Linked DNA regions of Homo sapiens: region 1 is linked to region 2. Evidence: fine-mapped expression QTL. A gene starts in region 2. The other region holds a variant in brackets. All regions are shown on one strand. Distances are between the middles of the regions. Region 1 overlaps PPFIA1 (PPFI scaffold protein A1). Region 2 holds the start of PPFIA1 (PPFI scaffold protein A1).

The links.
Region 1: its variant is fine-mapped to the expression of PPFIA1 in whole blood (INTERVAL, PIP 0.96).

The regions. Positions count from the first base shown.
Region 1 is chr11:70,356,002-70,367,239 of GRCh38, forward strand. PPFIA1 (PPFI scaffold protein A1) reads left to right here. Exons shown (of 28, transcript NM_003626.5): 19 at 160-253; 20 at 6,094-6,175; 21 at 6,287-6,487. It overlaps CTTN-DT (CTTN divergent transcript), which reads right to left. Exons shown (of 3, transcript NR_186321.1): 3 at 6,643-10,717. Among named protein-coding and RNA genes, the nearest start is that of CTTN-DT, 37 kb to the right of the region's middle. The variant G/A (reference allele first, on the strand shown) is at 6,204.
Region 2 is chr11:70,265,089-70,276,326 of GRCh38, forward strand. It overlaps PPFIA1 (PPFI scaffold protein A1), which reads left to right and starts at 5,602. Exons shown (of 28, transcript NM_003626.5): 1 at 5,602-5,826; 2 at 7,085-7,348. The coding sequence starts at 7,085. RefSeq lists silencers at 5,187-5,736, 5,777-6,206.

The DNA.
Region 1 (11,238 bases), 91 kb after region 2:
CTTGAGCATTTCCGTCTTGGGCATTTGGTTGTCTAGTCAGAAACTTAGCCTTAAGAAATGATTTAAATCTGAACCTGCAAATATTCATCTGCCTATTTATGAAAACATAGAGCTTTGTCATGCTGATTTTTACTTCTGGGCTGTTCTGCTTCCTCACAGCTGGTGTTTCCGAGACGGATAACTCATCTCAGGATGCCTTGGGACTTAGCAAATTGGGGGGACAGGCTGAAAAAAATCGTAAACTTCAAAAAAAGTAAGCTTTGTGTTATTTCTTCATCTCATTGAATGGTTTTCAGTTGTGCCTAAGCTCTAACTAGTGTTTGTTAATTATAATAGCTAGCTATGTATATATACATTATATTCTGAAAGCTTTACCTACAGCCTTAATTAAGCCGTACTTTCTGGAAGATTTAGTGTTTGTGAAATTTCGAAGAAACTCACACTGGTATCCCTATCATCTTGGAAAGCTGTCCAACCAGGAGATAGGGTGGGTGAGAGTTGGACTCAGCTGCCTGAGCACTGGAGTCGGCCCTGGCGCCTGCCCAGGTTCACTTTGTGACGTTGAGGAAGTGGCCTAGCATCTCTGTGCTTCAGTTTTCTCATCTGTAAAGTGGGGATCCTAGTAGTACATACCTTGTATGGCTTTTATGAGAATTAAATGGGATAATGTGCATACAGTTCTTTAAACAGTACCAGCAAGTCATAAACAAGTTGTAGCTGTGGCCAGTGCAGCGACTGTTGCTTGCCAGCATTCAGGATTTGCTCTTCATACTGCTGGTCTGTCCGAAACAGTCGCCATGCTGCATTTTTCTCTCTTCCGTAGATCGGGTAGTTTTATCTCAAATAGACTCCTGATTTTATAGCCCGTTTATTCAGCTTTAATTCTAAACTAAGTCTGCTTCTGACAATAAGCTCTAATATTTGGGATGGCTTTGAACAAAGGAGAACAGGCATTGTGATGCCCCAGGGTGAGGACGTGGAGGAATCGGGTTTCTGTCCCTGGGCCTTCTGGGATGCGGGGTGAGTTGCGTGTTGGCTGACTGTAGATGAAGTAGATAGGCTGAGACAGTGCCCAAGTGAGCCAACAAATGTAGAACAAAACTAAACCCAGTTCTGCAATAAAATAGGCAGTTTGTGTAGTCCATGGGATAAGGGCTGAGCTTGAGCAATGTGGAAGATGGTAATGCCAGGCTTACAGGGTGAAACTTGACGGGCTGTATGATGACTGTGACTGTGGGAAAAATCATCTGGCCACTTTTAAGTGCCCTGAGAAACCAGTGCTCATCTGGAAATTGGGGCCCAAAGATGCACCAGAGCCTATGGGGACCCTCTCCCCTAGAGGCCCCTTTGCCTTTAGCCCCTAGAGTTGCCAGCTGATTTTTTTCTGTTGTGAAATCTATCTCATTTTAGTTTTCTTTTCAAAGCCTTTATAAATGCTGTATTGATTATATTTTAGGTAAAATGCTTTTATGTTAACAGTACCATAGGAATACTCAGTTTTTTGGTTCCCTGTAAATGGAAATTTATAGAAACCACGTAACAGCAAAATCTGATTTGAACATTGCTATGCTTGAACTGTGTAAGAATTTTTTTTTTTTTTTTTGAGATGGAGTCTCGCTCTGTCACCCACGCTGGAGTGCAGTGGCGCAATCTCAGTTCACTGCAAGCTCTGCCTCCTGGGTTCACACCATTCTCCTGCCTCAGCTTCCCGAGTAGCTGGGACTTACAGGCGCCCGCCACCACACCCGGCTAATTTTTTGTATTTTTAGTAGAGACGGGGTTTCACCATGTTAGCCAGGATGGTCTTGATCTCCTGACCTCGTGATCTGCCCGCCTCAGCCTCCCAAAGTGCTGGGATTACAGGCGTGAGCCACCGCGCCCAGCCAAGAATGTTTTCAAATAACTTGGGTAATTGCCATTTGGCCCTGTGAAACTTAATGTTAGAGCTAAACTTTCTGCCTCCTGGAAACATGCTAGGAAAATTTCATTCCTTAGATTTTGCTAATGTTACTGTTTTTATGATAGTAAGTATGAGGAAGTGAAATAAAACTTCTCTGTCCTTTATGTTGTGCTTGGGATCCATGTGGAAGTTCTGAAATGTACCAGCTCCTTAGTGGGGAAAATTTCCAAGTACAAAGATTATTTGTCTGACTATAGAGGGCAGTTTCGTTTCTTTCACTTAAACTGAGATAAAACTGATTTTAGAAAAAGTGCTTTATTTATTGATTGATTGATTGAGACGAAGTCCCTCACTCTGTCGCCCAGGCTGGAGTGCAATGGCACGATCCTGGCTCACTGCAACTTCCGCCTCCTGGGTTCAAGTGATTCTCCTGCCTCAGCCTCCCAGCAGCTGGAATTACAAGCGTGTGCCACCGTGCCCAGCTAATTTTTTTGAATTTTTAGTAGAGATGGGGTTTCACCATGTTGGCCAGGCTTGTTTCGAATTCCTGACCTGAAGCGATCTGTCCACCTCGGCCTCCCAAAGTGTTGGGATTACAGGCGTGAGCCACCACGCCTGGCCTAAAATGTCTACATATAAATGTGAAAAAAAGTTTGCGTTTTCCAGAAAAAGTATTGTGTGAATACAGTTTAATATTTATGCCATCTTAAGAACGAACGTATATTTCTCAGAATTATTTTCTTCTTATTAACCCCTGATTTAACTCAAAGGTGTGTTTTAACTGCAAAATTTACACAGCCAGATGCTTTCACTTACAGAGAACTTAAGGAATCTGGTGAGTTTGGTGGCAAGCTGATTTCAAGTTTTGTAAGACACAGCATGGTGGGCGCGTTTGGTGCCTGGGATACGTAGTAATGAACCCGCAAGTCGGGGCTGGCTGTCCTAGAGCCATTCGTCAGCTTTGATAGCGCATAGTGCCTCCACAGCACTTTTAGAATTCCCCAGCGTTCTTGAAACACCATCTCTTGAAGTAACCTTGCTTTTAAAGTGTTCCCTTTTCATGTTCTCCTTTTTGTCTTCGTAGTGCTTTCTCAGGGTAAGCAGACTCGGGAGATTTGCTGGGCTGAGTGTGGGCAGTCACCAGCCACAGGCTCTATGCTGAGCTTCCTGAGAGGATCTTTTTATTTTTTTATTTTTGCCCTTGCAAAATAAAAGAAGGCCCTTGCACCGTTGCCCAGGCTGAAGTGCAGTGGCGCGTTCACCACTCACTGCAGCCTTGACCTTTATTTTTAGTAGAGACAGAGGTCTCAATATGTTGACCAGGCTGGTCTTGAACTCCTGGCCTCAAGTGATCTTCCTGCCTCTGCCTCTCAAAGTGTTGGGATTACAGGCATGAGCCACCACACCTGGCCCAAGGATCTTTTTAGTTTTGCATGAGAAATGCTGACTCCATCCATTTCTCATCAGGGCGACCCTACATCTTTCCTCAGGACTCTGCCAGTGTGCCATGGCAATGGAGCATGGGAGGGGCTATGCCTGGGTCACAGAACTGTACTTGTGGTGGTGGTGTTTTTTTATGGGTTTTGGAGAGGGTCCTGCTCTGTCACCCAGGTAGCAACTGTACCTGTGAAAGCAAGTCTTGTTCACTCTATGCAGGGTGCCAGAGGATTGAAAAGCTTCAGTCTTAAGAAAGTAAGGCAATATATTTAGTTTCGATAGTTGAGAGAAAGTACTTCCTCCCATCCCTTACATACTGTTTGATCAGCAAAAACTCACACAAGCTTCTCATTATGAAAGACAACTTTACCGTTATGCTATGTCTTAATTATAAAATGCACAACATTATTCACAAATTATATGACCTTTTTGCATTATAGCATTCTCAGTAGCAAGTGAAAGAGCCAAGTCTGAGATCAAGCAATAAAGGAGGAATGTAGTTGTTCATGTAAATGAACGGCCCAGAGGGCCAGGGTGGAGTGGCTTCAGCCATCTCCAGGCTCTGGACTCTGCATCCCCTCGACACAGGGGCCTTCTTCCCGTGATTGGAACAGTCCCCCCAGAGAAAACAGGGGCTCTGGTGTTCCCACCTGGAGTGCCAGCCCAGGGGCATGGTCCCATGTTTGGTCTTACAGATCATGGACTGGTCTGATAGGGGAGGGGAGCCAGGACACACACCGAGGCCTGGGCCCGCCACCCAGATGGGGTCTCCTCTGCCTTCTCCCTAACTTCCTGTGACTCTTAGACACATCCGTCTACCTCCACTGTCTTAACACTGTTTCCACTGTTGCCTCTGGACCCAGAAGCATCTCCATTCTGGAAAAGACTTTTTATAAAAGCTAGTGATCATTGCCAGGAAGAGGGTACTGGTGAAGTCTAGGACAGTGTACACCAGTCTCCAAGTAATAGAAGTAAAGAATTATTTTTTGACAATTATTTTTATTTACAGTGAGTATCTATTACATGTTAAAAAACGAAGTCTCTGGCAGAGTGCCAAGGCTGAGCGTAAGTTGGGAACCCTCCTGACTTGGCAGCAGTCAGATCCTCCCTGCGCCTTGGCCAGGCCCCGGACGCTCAAAGCCTTAGCAGTTAACCAGATTGTTAGCGTTCAGAGCTTTTTCTGGGATTGATGTGGCAGGAATTACCTGTACTACTTCCTAGACCCACTGGTGTGTGAAGGAAGCTCTACTGGCTGTCTTTGAGTGGCATTTGTCCCAAGGGAACGGAAGGCAGGGTTTCAGCCACCACCTGGTGATTGGCGCCATGCAGCGCGCCCTTCCTCCCAACCTCTTCATTTCGCATCTTGCGATACCACTTCATACTCCTAAGAAAAGTCTGCTGCTATTGAAATGTATTGAAGAGCCAATATCAAATTTTTAAAAATAAGAGATTCTATGGTATATGTCTTATGAAATTATTATAGAAAAAATGGACTAAAAGCAGCCTAGGGATGTTTGAATGACTTGGGGATATCTGTACTTGCAAACCAAATGTATGTGTCCTCTCCATTACAATGACACCTTCTCTCTGAGACTTTTTATTTTTTAAAACAATTAGCCTCTTTGAAAGCCTTGTAGGTAAACACTTGAGAAATAAGATGAGATTCACCAAGCTTATAGTGTTATTTCTGAAATACCTATGTTAGAGAGCATTATGTTAACCTCTGATTCTGTAAGGAGACGGGGATTCTGTAGAGAGTCAGAGGGAGTCATTCAGTATTTTCTCACTCAGGCATTCTTTGTAGTATGCACAGAACTAGTGTGAAATGGATGGTGTTGATACTGTTAAAGCTGTAGAAGATGAAAGGAAAATGATGAGCATGTATAGTCGTCTCTCAGAGTCTATGGGGGATTGGTTCCAGGACCCCTCCTGAATACCAAAATCCATGGAAGCTTAAGTCTCCTGTATGAAATGGCATGGTATTTCCGTATCACGTAGGCATAATCTCCTGTAGACTTCAAATCATCTCTAGGTTCTTTACAATACCCAACGGAATGTAAGTGCTATGTAAATAGCTGTTGTACTGTATTGGTTTTTTTTGTTTTTTCCCACTGAATATTTTTGATCTGCAGTTGGTTGACTGTGTGGATGTGGAAGCCGCAGATACAGAGGGCAGACTGTATACTGCTAGACTTTTGCAAATGCTCAGAACACTTCGTTAACTAATTTTATATATGTGTATAATAGTGGTTCCTTGATTTTGTTTTTGCTGGTTGTAATTTTTTTTTTTTTTTAGAGATAGGGTCTCACTCTGTTGCCTAGGCTGGAGTGCAGTGGCACAGTCATGGCCTACTGTAGCCTTGACCTCCTGGGCTCAGGCAATCCTTCCACCTCAGCCTCCCAAGTAGCTGAGACTACAGGCATGCGTCACCATACCTGGCTGATTTTTTTTTTTTTTTTTAATTTTTGTAGAGATGCATCTCATTATATTGCCCAGGCTGCTCTTGAACTACTGGCCTCAAGCAGTCTTCCTGCCTCAGTCTCCCGAGTAGCTGGGACTACAGGGGTGTGTCACTACACCTTGCAAATTTTTAAAATTTTTTGTAGAGTTGGGGTCTCGCTGTGTTGTCTAGGCTGGTCTTGAACTCCTGGGCTCAAGTGGTCCTCCTGCCTTGGCCTCCCAGAGAGCTGGGATTACAGGTGTGAGCTACCATGCCTGGCTGATTCTTTAATTTTCAATATCTTCTCCTTTATAGGCATGAATTGCTGGAGGAAGCCCGGAGACAAGGTTTACCTTTTGCCCAATGGGACGGGCCAACGGTTGTGGTCTGGCTAGAGGTACATCCTTCATTTAACATGCAGTTGC[G/A]TGGGTTACAGTATGTGAACTTACTGTTCTACTTTGTAGACTGTACCTCACTGTGCTGCCTTCCTTCCGCTTTCCGCCTCCAGCTCTGGGTTGGGATGCCAGCCTGGTATGTGGCTGCCTGCCGAGCAAACGTGAAAAGCGGGGCCATCATGTCGGCCCTGTCCGACACAGAGATCCAGCGTGAGATTGGCATCAGCAACCCCCTGCACAGGCTGAAGCTGAGGCTGGCCATCCAGGAGATCATGTCGCTGACCAGCCCGTCTGCCCCGCCCACATCTAGAACGGTACGTTCAGAGACAACCCCTGCATTCTTTGGAAACAGGGAATGCCTCTCTGAAGGTATCACTGCCCTGTTTACATTGCTTCTCCAGTTCCTTAACAGCATATGAAGTATAGTTCTAATTCAAAATTTTAGCATCACATACATTAGAACTTTTAATTTTGGGGAATTGGATGGTCAAAAGAAACTTTATTAAATGCTTTTATGAAAGATTGGCTAGAATGGCTTCATAGTATAAAAATATGAGCTTTTTTAAACATAGAAAAGCAATTACAAATTTAAATATGGAAATATGAAATACGAAAATACCAAAAAAAATTGGTAGAGATGGGGGTCTCGCTGTGTTGCCCAGGCTGGTCTTGCACTCCTGGGCTCCAAGCAGTCCTCCCACCTCAGCCTTCCAATGTGCTGGGATTACAGGCGTGAGCCACCACACCCAGCTGAGTTTATCAAAATTGAATCAGTCTAAGGGCCTCTTGAAGGAAAAAGTTAATATTTTAAGGACACATTTTATAATTAAATGTTTTGAATTTCATTTTTCAGTTTTCATGATTCAAACTGAGTAATTAACATTTGTACTATATATAAAGATATTTGCTAAGCCAATTATAGTGTATTTTTAAATGTTACTGGAATATAATATACATATAGAGAAATGCACGTATGAGTGAACAGTTAAATGAATCTGTAAAGTCAGCATCCCCTGTGTGGTCCACACCTACATTGAAAAATGGGATCTGACCAGGGCTCTGGAGGCCTCCTGCTCCTTCTGAGGCACTGCCCCTTCCCTAGGGATGAGTGCCTGGCTCCTGGTGCCATAGACTGCTCTGTTAGTTTCGTTCTTCATGTGTATAAACAAGATCATGTAGTATTCACTCTCTTGTGTCTGGCTTCTTTCACTTAATGTTATGTCTGTGAATTCATCCGTATCATTCCATGTGTAAGTAGCATCTTGAGTAAAATTTTTCTGTCTAGTTCAGAGGACTGGCTCTTCCAGGCTTCTTAGAAGCACCCATTTATTTATTTATTTAAGTTTTTTATTTTTTGGAGGCAAGGTCTTACTCTGTCACCCAGGCTGGAGTGCAGTGGCTCAATCGTAGCTCACTGCAGCCTCAACCTCTTGGGCTCAAGCGATCCTCCCACCTCAGCCTCCCAAGTAGTTGGGACTACAGGTGTGCACCACCACACCCAGCTAATTTCTAAAAACTTCTTAGAGACAGGGTCTTGCTGTGTTGACCAGGCTGGTCTGGAACTCCTGGCCTCCAGTAGTCCTCCTGCCTCAGAGTCCCTGAGTGCTGAAATTACAGGTGTGAGCCACCATGCCCAGCCAGAAGCATCCATTGAAATATAGGTGACATACTAGTAAGAGATACTTGTTATCCCACCGTCAAAACTGATCCCTAAGGAATTTTTGTATTTTTTGTAGAGATGGGTCTCACTTTGTTGCCTAGGCTGGTCTGGAACTCCTGGGCTCAAGCGATCCTCCTGCCTCAGACTCCCAAGTAGCTGTGACTACAGGCATGCACAGCCATGCTTGGAAAAGGTCCCTAAAGAATTCTAATCCTCCCTTCCCCATCATTCCAGTTTGCGGACATTTTTTAAAATAAAAACTAAAGGGGAAAATAAAGATGAGATCACTGGTTGCCTTGTAACCAGTGTTTTACTGTATTTGATTTATTTGGCCTGTAGGTGTTTTCCATTTGGGGAGCTAAAGACCCTGGGAGCTCAGGATTTCAAGCAGTTCACAAATCTGCAAATGTTCATCCAACATGAGCTGTACTTATACAGTTTCTCTCCATGTGGGAAGTCCCTCAAAGTCCTTAAGAAGGGTTATCCTACTTGAAAAAGAAGAACTATGTTAATAAAAACAAGAATGGTTATTGGGAGATAAGGGCAGGCCAACTCCAGATTTATAAAGTTGAGACTTTTTACACTGGCTGGATTCCCAGTCTCTGCTTTTAGTCTCCTCAGGAGAAAACAAATTCTTGTTGCAATGAAGAGCCTCACACATTTCTCCAAGGAGCACGTCAGCGCTGGATTTAGGGCTCCCAGTTACCTTACAAAAAAAGTTTTGAGGGGTTTTACTTGTTTTATTTATTTTTTTCTTCTTAATGAACAAATTATGGTGATGAACAATAAGCTTTGTCCTCCCCTGTTGCTCCAAGAGCTCCTTTCCCACAGCCTGCCTCAGGAGCAGTGTCTGAGCTCTTCCCTGGTTGTTTCACATGACAGTGGCCTTGCTGAAAATGAAGGTGCTGAGTGGTTTCTCCCATGTTTATCCACTGTCTTCAGTAATGATGGAGAACACCTCACATAAGGCAGACTCTTCACACCATGTCAAAATGCAAGGAAAAAATCTCCCTCAAGTAGACACACAGGCCACTGTCTGTCTCGTGTCTGGTTCTGATGGCTGCACAGAGCCATCGACACTGCTTAGCAGTGACCCCCTCTGCCCTGTGGCCTGCCTTCAGCCTTTCAGGCCGTCACGGAACATCTGCGAGAAAGCCCTCCAATAGCCAAAGCAAGAGTTTCATGCTGGGTTCTTTGTTGTTAATCTGCTTTAAATATATTGAATCAATAGTTACTTGAGAATTACTCAAAGTTTCCAGAAGTACACAACGTGTTTTCTTCTCTTGATATTTCACATACCTCGGGTAAGCATGGCATCTAAAGCTCTCGTCATCGTGTGCTCTTCTCCTGATGGTGTTGACGACCCAGTGTTAACAGGGAATGGTTATTCTGTACGGGCATCTGAACTGAAAAGTGAGAAGAGCGAACTTTGCCTCCTCGGCCCCTTCTCTGTGCCTGTGGCTTATGCGTGTGCCCCTCTCCTCTTTGTCACTGCTTCCCTTGCCCTGGATGTGGTTGGTGCACTGGGGTCACCTTAGACCACAGGAAATGTCTGGTTAACACACGAAGAGATGGAAACGCTCGCAGCCACGCCGCAAACGGTTAGTCACGCCCCACAGCCTGCACTCCTCCCAGCGCGTTTTCCACTTAAGACCGTCTGGGTTCTTTGCCTTTTTGTTGAAAACAAAATGTTGTTTTCCATTCAGTCGTTCCAGATAAGTATTTCCTTTAGTTATTAGTTGAAATGTGTAAGTAGAATTTGTATTTTATTTTAGATTTTTTCCAGGAACTTCAAGTTGGTAGACTCTGTCTTTTAGAATAGCTTTAATCTAGCTCTCCTTTTGGAGAGATCTCAGTTGAGCCTCCATGTGACTGACTGTGTGGCCCTTTCTCCTTCCATGAATATGCTTGGCACGGAGAGAGTCTGCTCCTTGCATGAGAAGTTGAAATTGTTGGTTTTGCATGAGTTTTGCATGATGCTTTGATAGTCTGAACTTTTTCACTCAGTGAAGCTGCATCTTCCCTGCAGAGTTGCGTTGCCTGCATTACCGAGCTCACCAATACTAATAGTTATGTTCTTTTGCATTCCTAACCACGTAACCCCAGGAAGATGAGGAGGGAAGCTGGGCTCAGGTTGGAGTCTTTCTCTAATATATTCTTCACTACATGTACAGCAGCAAAAAGCAATTGGAGTATGAAAACTTGTGTAATCTACTTTTTTTGATGTTTATAGCATCTTAGTTTATTCGGAGTACAGGATTGTTAATGATTTGAAAGCACTGGTCAAGCAAAACATAGCATCAAAGAGTACGTCTCATGGACAATTTTGAACATTTCTCATATGGTGCCATGGCAGTTATTTTTAATTAATATAGATTGCTTTGTTTAACATATGATCTTGTATACAAAGTCTTGTGGCTTAGGCAGCTTCTGAGATTATGTATGTAATTTCCTGGTAGGGTAATGTTATTACAAGATATACTGATAGGGAAATTGTGCTCTAATAAATTTCCAAACACAAAAATTGGCATAATGACTTTTCCTCTGTGCCTTTGTGTTGATTTTTTACTAAATACTATCCTAATACTATGTCCACTTAAAGATTTTCTTACTAATGGAATCCTAAGGAATTAAGCCTCTTCTTGAGTACTGTATATTTGAATTTTCAGCTTCTCAATTCTTTAACTCACCAAAAACTCTATCCCAACTGTTTTGCATTCTGTATGTTCAGACAGCTTGCCGAAATGTCGTGCGACGCCACTGGCCTTCTGTGGTCAGGGTGTATGTCTCAGTGGCACATTGCAGCCATGAGGCGTGGACAGGCAGTTCTAGAGGCTTTCCCGAATGGACTGTATTTGAGGGCTTCAGAATAATCATTATATATCTGAAAAGAATCAAAAGGATTTTAAATCATAATTTTCCTGATTACGAGGTGATGGTTGAAGCAGCTGTTTCCTTCTCTTGGTACTCCTAAAATCTAGCTCATTAGACTGTCCCCCCACCTTTTTTTATTTTTATTTTTTATTTGTATTTTTTAACAAAATAGAGTAGCTATAATGTGATTCTGTGGGCTTTTTTCTCTCTTGATTTAAGCATTCTGTGCCTCTCCTCCAGATAAATAACCTCATTGTTTAACTTGTTAGATATCCCTTTATAGGACCAATAATGACCATAAATGAATTATACAGGGTACATTTCATAATTACTTAAATTTCAGTATATTTTCCACCAAGGAGCAGAATTTGGTTAATACTTCAGTATGAAATTGCCTGAGTCAGGGACAGGAAGTGTAAATTAAATAAGCTTAACCTTGCTCTTTGCGGTGGAAATATAAACAAGACTGAGCTGTGGTGATGACTCCAGAACTAGCCGACATGCAGTCTAGTGGAAGCTCGTATCACTTTT
Region 2 (11,238 bases):
ACCAATATGGTGAAACCTTGTCTCTACTAAAGATACAAAAATTAGCTGGGCGTGGTGGCGCATGCCTGTAATCCCAGCTACTCAGGAGGCTGAGGCAGGAGAATCATTTGAACCTGGGAGGCAGAGGTTGCAGTGAGCTGAGATCGTGCCACTGCATTCCATCCTGGGCGACAGAGTGAGACTTCATCTCGGAAAAAAAAAAGAATGAAATGAGATGAATAAGTAAAATGGTAGCTCTTGGCCCTGGGAATTGAATTATTTCGGCTGCACTGCAGACCAACTGGTAAAATGTTTTCTCTTCAGTTGTTCCTTAAAGAGGCCACTCCTTGATCACAACGACGTGGGGACAGGACGGGGAATTGAGAGCCCTGGGTTCACTCAAGGCTCCACCTCCAGCTCTGCCCCAAACTCTCTGAGTGTCTACAGGGAAATCTGTTTTGCATCTCTGGGTTTCAGCTCCCTTCTCTTAAAGGAACGACCACATCCTCCACCATCTACTGCCCTAGGGCTCCTCCAGCTCAGACCTCCCCCTGAACTGTGTTGTCACAGCACTCATTCATTAGGTGGCTTTACATGTTCTGGGTAGATTTGGGCACATCCTGATCTCTATGATTGAGGTCAGACCACAACGATCCCCGCAGGAACCTCCTTCTTAAGCCGCTTACATCTCTGGAGTGGAGAGGTGTCCTGAGTGATGCTCATGGTTGACAACTAACTGCATCATCCAGGCACCTTCTAGAGAGCAGAGGCTGGCTGACCTCCACCGCAGCCACATTTGCAAACATGAAACCCCAGGAGTAGTGATAAATTCTCTGCTCCCTCCTCACTCCTTCTATCATAATTTCTTTATCAAGTCTTTTACAGAAGAACTGGAGTGAAAACATTTTCCATCTTCACTGTTTTCCTGACAGAGCCTTGGGTGACAGCATGTCACCCAAGCTCTGAGAAATGTTTTCCAGATAAATACTTCTGGGAAGTAGTTTAGCTGGGTGGTATGAGTAAATCCATCTGAAAGTCATGTTAGCTTCCTGAAAGCAGTTCTCCATGGTTCTCACTTGTCCAGATTGAATTTTAATGAACATTTATTGGAGGTTTTCCTATTGATTATAATAATGACGCACATTCATGATAAAGTATCTAGAAAATAAAGACTAGCAAAATGAAAGAAATGCAGCTTCCAACCACAATCCCACTTAAAGATAACCACCGCGAACATTCTGATGGATCTCCTTCCAAGAATATATACATATATATATGCGGGAAGTGGGGAAAGATAAAGAACTAATTGACTACAGTAACAATATTTTCTTATGTAGACATATGTTTTTCTTTCATAATTTGAAACTTAAAATTTAATTTCTCATTTCAAGAATAGTTCATGTCATATAAAACTCATTTTATTAAAAATGTATCACCTTAACATTCTAGAGTTATTCATCTACAAGGTAAATTTTACATAATACATTCTTAATCTAAACACAGACTGTTTTCTTTTTCAAATTGGGGTTCACACTCTGTATACTTGTTTGAATTTGCTTTTTTAAAAAAGTTTTTGTTTATGTATAAAAATTAAGGCATACTCTACATATTAATGTACAGTTATTTGACAAACGTATATAGTAATGTAACTACCACCACAATCATGATATATGTAGTTATCTAAAATATGACTGTGGGCCAGGTGCGGTGGCTCACACCTGTAATCCTAGCACTTTGGGAGGCTGAGGTGGATGGATCACCTGAGGTCAGGAGTTCGAAACCAGCCTGTCCAACATGGTGAAACCCAGTCTCTACTAAAAATACAAAAATTAGCCAGGTGTGCCTGTAATCCCAGCTACCCAGGAAGCTGAGGCAGGAGAATCTCTGGAACCCCAGGAGGCGGAGGCTGCAGTGAGCCGAGATCACCCCACTGCACTCCAGCCTGGGCGACGGGGCAAGATTCAGTCTCAAAAAAAATGACTGTGAATGTCACCAAGTTTTCTGTCATTTGGAAGTGCAATAATTTAACCAATCTTGTTTTCTTGGCCATTTAGGTTGTTTACGATTTCCCCCTTACTGATTTTGCGATCTGGGGGAATGAAATAATAAATGAATTAAAATGAATGAGGGCCATGAGTGGTGGCTCATGCCTGTAATTCCAGCACTTTGGGAGGGTGAGGTGGGAGGATTGCTTGGGCTCAGGAGTTTGAGACCATCCTGGGCAACATGGTGAAACCTCTTTTCTACCAAAAATACAAAAAAGTTAGCCAGGCATGGTGGTCTGCGCTGGTAGTCCCAGCTACTTGTTGGGGAGCTGAGGTGAGATGACTGATGGGCCTGGGAGGTAGAGGCTGCAGTAAACTGTGTTCGAACCACTATATCCCAGCCTAGGTGACTACATGAGACCCTGTCTCAAAAAAAAAAAAAAAAAGAGAGAGAAAAAGAACAAAGGAAGGGTAAGGGGAGGGGAGGGAGGGAGAGAGAGAGAGGAAGGAAGGAAGGAAGGAAGGAAGGAAGGGAGGAAGGAAGGAAGGAAGGAAGGAAGGAAGCAAGGAAGGAAGGAAAAAGAAAGAAAAGAAAGAAATAAAATGAAATTCAGAATTCTCATTTTCCTGGAGCTATACCAACTGGGTGTCTCCCTTCTCCGCTGGAAAAATCCCACATCATTCAAGACCCAGCTCAGATATTGCCTCCTCTATGAAGCCCCCATGATGCCAGCTGGAGAGCGGGTTCCTCCCTTCCCTGTGATTCCACAGCACCAAGTCACACACTGTTTACGGGACAGACATTGCAATAGTCTGTTTTTCTTCTCTTTCTCCAGACTGTGAACTCATACTAGAAGTGATGTCTTAGCTCTGCGTTCCCAAGACCTAAGCCATGCTTGGCTCATACATGCTGCACAAATATTCATGAAATGAATGAACATTCTACCCTGCCGAACTAAATTTTGATCTTGAGCCGATTTTTCTTTTTTTTTTTTTTTTTGAGATGGAGTCTCGCTTTGTTGCCCAGGCTGGAGTGCAGTGGCGCGATCTCGGCTCGCTGCAAGCTCCGTCTCCCGGGTTCACGCCATTCTCCTGCCTCAGCCTCCCGAGTAGCTGGGACTACAGGCGCCTGCCACCACGCCCGGCTAATTTTTTGTATTTTTAGTAGAGACAGGGTTTCACTGTGTTAGCCAGGATGGTCTCGATCTCCTGAACTCGTGATCCGCCTACCTCGGCCTCCCAGAGTGCTGGGATTACAGGCGTGAGCCACTGCGCCCGGCCTTGAGCCGATTTCTTAGAAAACAGACACTTTATGAGCATGGTGCAAACATAAGCTGGCTGCATTAAGCAGGTACCCCTAAGGAGAGCTGGAAATTTGCTGGTTTCAGACAGTGGTTCAGGGGAACTTGGGAGTTGTGCAGAATTGCTGGGGTGTGGAGAGGTACAGGGTACTTGCAGAACACCTCATCTAAGCGATCAACTTTACAATTTTATTATTTTTGAGACAGAGTCTCGCTTTGGCACCCAGGCTGGAATGCAGTGGCACAATCACAGCTCACTGCAGCCTCGACCTCTCAGGCTCAAGCGATCCTCCCACCTCAATCCCCCAAGTACCTGGGACTACAGGTGTGGCCCACCTTGCTGGACTAATTTTTAATTTTTTGTATAGACATGGGTCTCGATATATTGCCCAGGCTCAAGCAATCCTCCCACGTTGGCCCCCCAGCGTGCTGGGATTACAGACGTGAGCCACTGCACCTGGCCAATGTTTTTTTTTTTTTTTTTTTTCTGAGACAGAGCCTCGCTTTGTCTCCCAGCCTGGAGCGCAGTGGCATGATCTCCTCATTGCAACCTCCACCTCCCAGGTTCAAGCTATTCTTCCACCTCAGCCTCCTGAGTAGCTGGGATTACAGATGCCCGCCACCACACCCGGCTAATTTTTGTATTTTTAGTAGGGATAGGGTTTCACCATGTTGGCCAGGCTGGTTTTGAACTCCTGACCTCAAGTGATCTGCCCACCTGGGTCTCCCAAAGTGCTGGGATTACAGGCTTGAGCCACCGCACCCGGCCTCACCTGGCCATTTTTACACTTTTAAAATAGCAAGAAACTAGGGGCAAAAAGTACATATTCATATCTATGTGTAGTCAGTCAATAAATATTTATTGAATGAACGAATAAATTAATGGAAGGTGTTCCAGATCCTGGTAGGCGAGAGTCAGTCGGAGGGAGTGCTTGTTCTTGGTGCACTCACAATGGAGAATCAAGGAATTCACCTTGGACGGGCTCATTTCTCCCTCTCCTAGGCCCCGTGCAGCCTCTTCTCAGACTTACTAGTTCTGAGGGGCTCCTGGCTGCCTCACACCAACAGCAGTGGCCAGTGGACACTGGCGATGGTGTCCTGACATTTTGGTTTGTGAAGAGTTTGTGCTCCGAGTCAAATCCTGGGAGGAGTGGGGAGGGCATCCGCTTTAATTAATTAGAGGTGTCTCTATTCATCTCCGTATCTGCAACATCTAGCACAAGACTTGGCCCATAGTAGATGTTTAAAAATTCTTGCTGAGGCCGGGCGCAGTGGCTCACGCCTGTAATCCCAACACTTTGGGAGGCTGAGGCGGGCAGACCACCTGAGGTCAGGAGTTCGAGACCAGCTCGACCAACATGTAGAAATCCCGTCTCTACTAAAAATACAAAATTATCTGGACTTGGTGGCGTGCGCCTGTAATCCCAGCTACACGGGAGGTTGAGGCAGGAGAATCACTTGAACCCGGGAGGCAGAGGTTGCAGTGAGCCGAGATGGCGCCATTGCACTCCAGCCTGGGTGACAAGAGTGAAACAACGTCTGGAAAAAAAAAAAAACTTGCGGAAAAGATGAAATGACCAAGACTCGCGCAGTGCTGCCCGTCAGGCTCTCAACTAGTCGCTCTTCACATCTGATTCATGTCTTAAAGCAGCCTCGCAGGTAGGTCTGCATCATTTTCCCATCCTACATCGGAGGCGCTGAAGCCCAGGCGGGTTTCCCGAGTCGCCCGGGCCCACGCTGCAGAGTGAAAGCCACAGCGGCAAAGCCTGCACTCTGGACGCTGCGCCGGGACGTCCCCAGGTGCGGCAGGCAGCGCTCCGTAAGTGGGTCCTGGCGGGAACTCCGTCCTTCTGAACCCAGATCAGGCCCAGGGAGACCGTAGGGGCGCCGCGGCGGGCGGGGTCTGGGTCCTCGGTGGTGACTGAAGCCTCGGTTCGCTCTTCTGCAAGGTGCGAATCCAGAGCCTCCAGCTCGGGAGGGACCTGACGTGCCGGACGCGTCCAGCTCAGAACTCGAGGCGCGGTAGACACTCAGCAAAGGCCTCCGGCGTCCCTGCAGCCGTGGGGGGAAACTGGGGACGCCCGGAGGAAGACGCTGACCCGGCGAGCACCTGAGCGCCCACCTGTGGCTCATCCCGGAGACCGCCCCCTCCCCCGCGACCCGGGCGGGGCCTGGGGGGCGTGGCTCCCGTCTCGCTCAGCCAATCAGTGCCCCGGGGCCGCCTCCCGCCCCCTCCTGAGGAGACAGCGCTTGCGTACTCGGGCCAAGGTGCTCCTCGGGCCCCGCCCCCGGGGCGGTGCTGACGCTCGCGCCGACGCGCTCGACGTCGGGCACGTAGACGCCGGCGCCGCGCAGCCGGGCCCGCTCCTCCTCCGCTCCGCCAGTGTCCGGCCGCGGGCCGGCCTTAGTGACTGGGGCGGCGGGCCCCGGGGCCGCGGCGTGGGGCGGGCAGGCGGACGCCGGCCGCGGGCTGCTTTCGTCGGCTCCCAAGCTCTCCCGGAGCGAGCAGCCGCCCGCGAGCCGCCGCGGAGCCTCCTCGCCCGCTCCCGCCGGCGAGCAAGGTAAGGGAGCGGGACACTGAGGCAGGCTCGGGGCCCAGGCGTCACCGGCGCGTCCCGGTCTCCGCGGCGGCCACGCAGCCGATTAGATGTCTCCGCGGGGAAGGGTGCGCTCCGGGACGGGTGGGGGCGAGGCCGCGGCGCCGGGTCGCGCTGGGAGAGCTCCGGCGGGACACCCGCGCCCCAAGGGACGGCTCCGGGGACTGCGCGCTGCCCCTCCCCGAGCCCCGCGCCCCGTGACCCGGGCGCTGGGGCGAGGGGCGGGGACCTGTGGCCGCTGAAAGCCCTGGCCCGAGCGGGCTCCGTTGTCAACGGTCCTCACCCCCCGGGGTTCGGGGCTTCCGCCGCACCTGATACAGGAGGGGAGGAGTGCGGCTCGAGCAGGCTGGAGGTCACCATCCCCATCAGGTGCGCCGTCTGGGGCATCCCCCTCTCAGGGGTCCACCGCGCCCCCAGTACTGCCCGAAAGGCTCAGAAGCGACTTCCCCTTTCCCTGGCGCTGTCTTTATATCCCAGACACTTAATAGACTCTCGTAATCTCACCTTTCACTTTTCCCTCTTTCCTAGCCGCCCCCGGCTGTATCGACCTGCTATATTTCCATTGTGGATTTTTTTTTTCGGTTGTAAACTTACGTAAGTTAGGTTGACCAACCGTTGCAGCCATTGGAAAACACTTCTACCAGCGTTTAACGAATCCGGTTCCTTTTAGTGCTCACCAAATCCAGCCCAAGAATTCAGGGAGCCGTCAGTTCTTCCCGGGAGCTGACTGCACACATTCCTGCAAGATGCCTGATGGATTTTGTACTTGTCAGTTTTGCTGGTTGTATGCTCCTTCTGTGCTTTTCCTGAAAAATGATTGGGTGACATGTGTTTTGACTTTCTCCCCCCCTACCCCCCCACCCTCCCCACCCCACTGGGAAGTAAAAAAAATAGGTAACAGAAGCACACTTGTTTTCAGCAAAAACAAGTACAGCTTTGCAAACAGACTACCCCAGGGCTTGCCCTTTTTTGTGAGGGTAGTCCTTTGGGATCTTGACCCCTTCCCTGGATTTTTGTCTGTGTTAATGTCTTCATGTTGTGTATTTTTGCACTTAATATTTGCCCTGTGTATGTTTTCCCAGCTTATTTACACACAAAGCATAACAGATCTGAGCATAATGAGACTGCCCATCTTTTTAGCTACAGATACCTGTAAAGTTGCATATTTGTGGGAACCTGTATTCTGAGCTTAATTACTGTAGCCTGGGTCTTTCATTTCAAGATGATGTGCGAGGTGATGCCGACCATCAGCGAAGCAGAAGGCCCCCCTGGAGGAGGTGGAGGCCATGGTTCCGGCTCCCCTTCACAGCCAGATGCAGATTCACATTTTGAACAGTTGATGGTCTCCATGCTAGAAGAAAGGGACCGCCTTCTTGATACACTGAGAGAGACTCAAGAAACGCTGGCCTTAACCCAGGGGAAGTTACACGAGGTTGGTCATGAAAGAGATTCCTTGCAGAGACAGCTCAACACGGCACTTCCACAGGTATGAGTGCTTTTAACCTGAAACTATAGATTTTTCTCCACTAAATGTTTTTTTATTAGTGTCATCTTTTGTTAATGTTTCAGATGAGTATTTTCCGTAACGATTTGTGAAATGATAGTTTCTGGTGTTTGTAAGTCAAATACAAAGTTCCTAGGGATTAAACTTCTTAGGGAGAACAAATCGTTGTACTCTAAAGTCATGTGAAAATACCTCATTATTTTCATTCCTATCTTTGGGAACTGCCTAGGTTCAGGAAGTTCTCCAGAGTTTTTGAAAAAGGGCTCTGAAGCAACCAATCTATTTGGTGCCTCCATTCTGTTGTCTTAAGCCTTTTCTGGCTAAACTTGTACTTCCCATGGATTATCTCATGTATTTCTAATTTCCTAATGTAATTTAATAGACAAATAGGATTGATTTCACGGAAAAAAAAAATTATTTTGATAGCCCACCTTTATCAGAACATCTAGGTTTTGTAAGTCACATTTGTTTTAGGGGATAGAAGACTCGAGATTGATTCCTTAGGAACTTTTTCCTTGGCAGATGAGAATTTTAAAGCTTAGGCCGGGTGTGGTGGCTCATGCCTGTAATCCCAGCACTCTGGGAGGCTGAGGCAGGCGGATCACCTGAGGTCAGGAGTTTGAGACCAGCCTGGCCAACATGGCAAAACCCTGTCTCTACCAAAAATACAAAAATTAGCAGAGCGTGGTAGCGCGCATCTGTAGTCCCAGCTACTCAGAGGCTGAGGCATGAGAATCACTTGAACCCGGGAGGTGGAGGTTGCAGTGAGCCAAGATTGCACCACTGCTCTCCAGCCTGTCTCAAAAAAAAAAAAGATTTTTAAAGCTTAGAACAACTGAAATTGTTTCTCTGAGTATGTTACATTTGGACCAGTGTTTGAAAGACTTTGCTCATGGAGTTGAATGAGGATTTACTTAATGGTAGGTAAAGGGAGAAAGTAAAAACTAGAAGAGTGTAAGGTGAGTGGCACGGGGCATAGTGGGAGAGAAGTGGGTTATTTATGTGTTTCAGAGCTGTCTAGGCGCCACGTTACTCATCATAAGTGCCTTTGGGGTGCATTCAGGTAGACCCGCATAAGCACACATTTATACTCGCATGATGGGTCTGCAGTGATAAATTAGTAAATGAATAAGTACTAGCCTTAATGTGTTTCTTGGCTGTAGTCAGTTCTCCTGAAAGATTGATAAGCCAAACGTGGGTTTCCTTTTTAGCAACAATAATTTGACGTTAGCGCTCTATGTTCCTTTTTTGTTGGATTAAAGAATCATTAAGATTTTTCTTATTTCAATCTTATAAATTACCAAGTTTATTTATGTTGAATTTTATTACTACAATTTTAAAAGAAGTAGCCAATTTATGTTTTACCAGGATTTTATTGTATTTGTAATTTAAGGTACACGTATTGAAGTGTATATCAAATACTAATATACTTAATAAGGTAGGTTTTGGAAAGAATGGGCACACAAGACATGTCAGGGAAGTGACAGGAGTTTTGTACAGTTAGTCGCAGGCTGTGGAGGTTGTCACACACACTGGTGACATGGTTGCTCAGTGATTTGTTTCTGGCACTGCTCAGTGTAGCAGCCTGGGAATGCCTAGTTCAGTGGATAACATGATGATGCCAACGGTTCACGTTACCACCTGAGCACCTGATTCCAGCCTTTCAAAAATGGAAACTATTAAGTAAACTTGTTTTGGACCCTTCCCTTTCCTGGCATCTGGTTCATCTTTGGTGGCTGGTAGTGTGACCAGATAATGAGTCCAGGAAGTGCATTTGTGCTCCTGGCACATTGTGGAGGCAAGTTAGAGTGTACTTAAAAATATACATAACTATAGCATACAGCAGAAAAATTCACAAATCGTAAGTATACATCTCAGTGGACTTTTCACAAAGTTAACACACTTGCATACCACCACCCAGATCAAGAAATGGAACATTATCAGGCTTCCTAGAAGTCCCCTCCTAACTATTCCCAGTAGTTGTCCCCCAGAGCTAACCAAGGTCTTGACCTTTCACCATTGATTACTTTTGCCTGTTCTTGACTTTGTTTAAGTGAAGTAAAATAATCTGTATGTTTTGCTTCTTCATTCTGTCGTCAGCATCATGTTTGTGAGATGCAGCTTGCTCATTCTCACCTGCTCTCTGGTCATCCCGTGCACGAACAGACAGAACTTATTCTTTCTACTGCTCACAGACATTTGGGGTTGTTTCCAGTTTTTACACGTGCTCCCCTAATATTGTTTGTTTTTTGGTGCAGATGTCTATAAACTTTTTTTTTTTTGAGATAGGGTCTCACTCTGTTGCCCAGGCTGGAGTGCAGTGGCATGATCTCGGCTCACTGTAGCCTCCACCTCCCAGGTTGAAGCGATTCTCCTGCCTCAGCCTCCCAAGTAGCTGGGAATACAGGCACGCATCACCACCCTCCGCTAATTTTTGTATTTTTTGTAGAGGTGGGGTTTTACCATGTTGCCCAGGCCGGAGGATATGTGTACACTTCTGTTGGATTTCTACAAAGAAGTGGAATGCAAATGATGGTGTGTGCATTTGTTCAGCCTCAGTAGAGAGTGCCAAAAGTGGTGGTTGTGACAGTTTGTACTACCCCAGCAATGTATGAGAAGTCAGTTGCTCCTATGCTCTTCAGCACTTGGTATTGTTGGGTCTTTACATTTTAGCTGTTCTGGTGGCTGTTAGCTGGTAGGTGGCTCAGTATGGTCTGAATTTGCTGCTCCCTGATGGCCAGGAACATGCAGAGGTAAAGCATCTCTACCTGTGTTCACTGGCCACCTGGATGTCTTTTGTGAAACGGTTATCTTTTGCCCATCTGTTGATTGGGTTGTCTGTTTTGTTTTTTACTGATTTGAAGGAGTTTTCTCTATATTCTGAGTACATATGTGCATGACAGATTGTTTTTAGACTCTTGTGTTTGCCTTTTCACTCTCTCAGTTGTATCTTTTGATACATAGAAGTGTAAAATTTTTAATGTAGCCCAGTTGATCCATCTTTTCAGTAATGTTTAATGCTCTTTGTGTCCTGTTTAAGAAATTTGCTTGGTCAAGTTCATGAGATATTCTACATTGTCTTCTAAAAACTATTTTTTAATCTTCCATCTGAAATTGACTTTGTTTATGGTATGCGATGGGGCCAAGAGTCTCTCTTTCTTTTTTTAAATGGATATCTAGTTGACCTTGCATAATTTCTTAAAAGACTATTCTTTCCCCAGTGTACTACATGCAGTGTCATCTCAGTCCAGTGACTGTAAGTGTGTGGGTCTGTTTCTGGACTCTCTTCTGCTCCTTTGATCTTTTTGTCATCTTTGCACAAATAGCACAATGTCTAAATTCCCATAGATATAGTCTGTCTTGAGATCTGGTAATTTAAGAAAAGGGTACTCACTCGGTTGCCCAGACTAGTCTCCAACTCCTGGTGTCAAGCGATCCTCTCACCTTGGTCTCCCAAAGTGCTGGGATTACCACTGTGAGCCACCACACCTGGCCCTGTAGATATTCTTTATCAAAATGTAAAAATTCTCCTCTTCTTAGTTTGCCAAGAGTTTTTTAAAAACCATGAGCAGGTATTAAATTTCTTAACATGGATTTTCTGCATCTTTTGAGACAGTCATGTGATTTTTCTGTTATGTGGGAATTTAACTGTTTTTGTTTGTTTATTTTTGAGATGGGGTCTTGCTCCATTACCCAGCCCGGAGTGCAGTGGCACCATCATAGCTCGCTGTAGCCTTGAACTCCTGGGCTAAAGTGATCTTCCCACCTCAGCCTCTCAAGTAGTTGGAATTATAGACGCACGCCACTGCGCCTTGCTTTTTTTTTTTTTTTTAATTGCATATTGTTTGTAGCCTGGGGAAGCAACTTCAGGA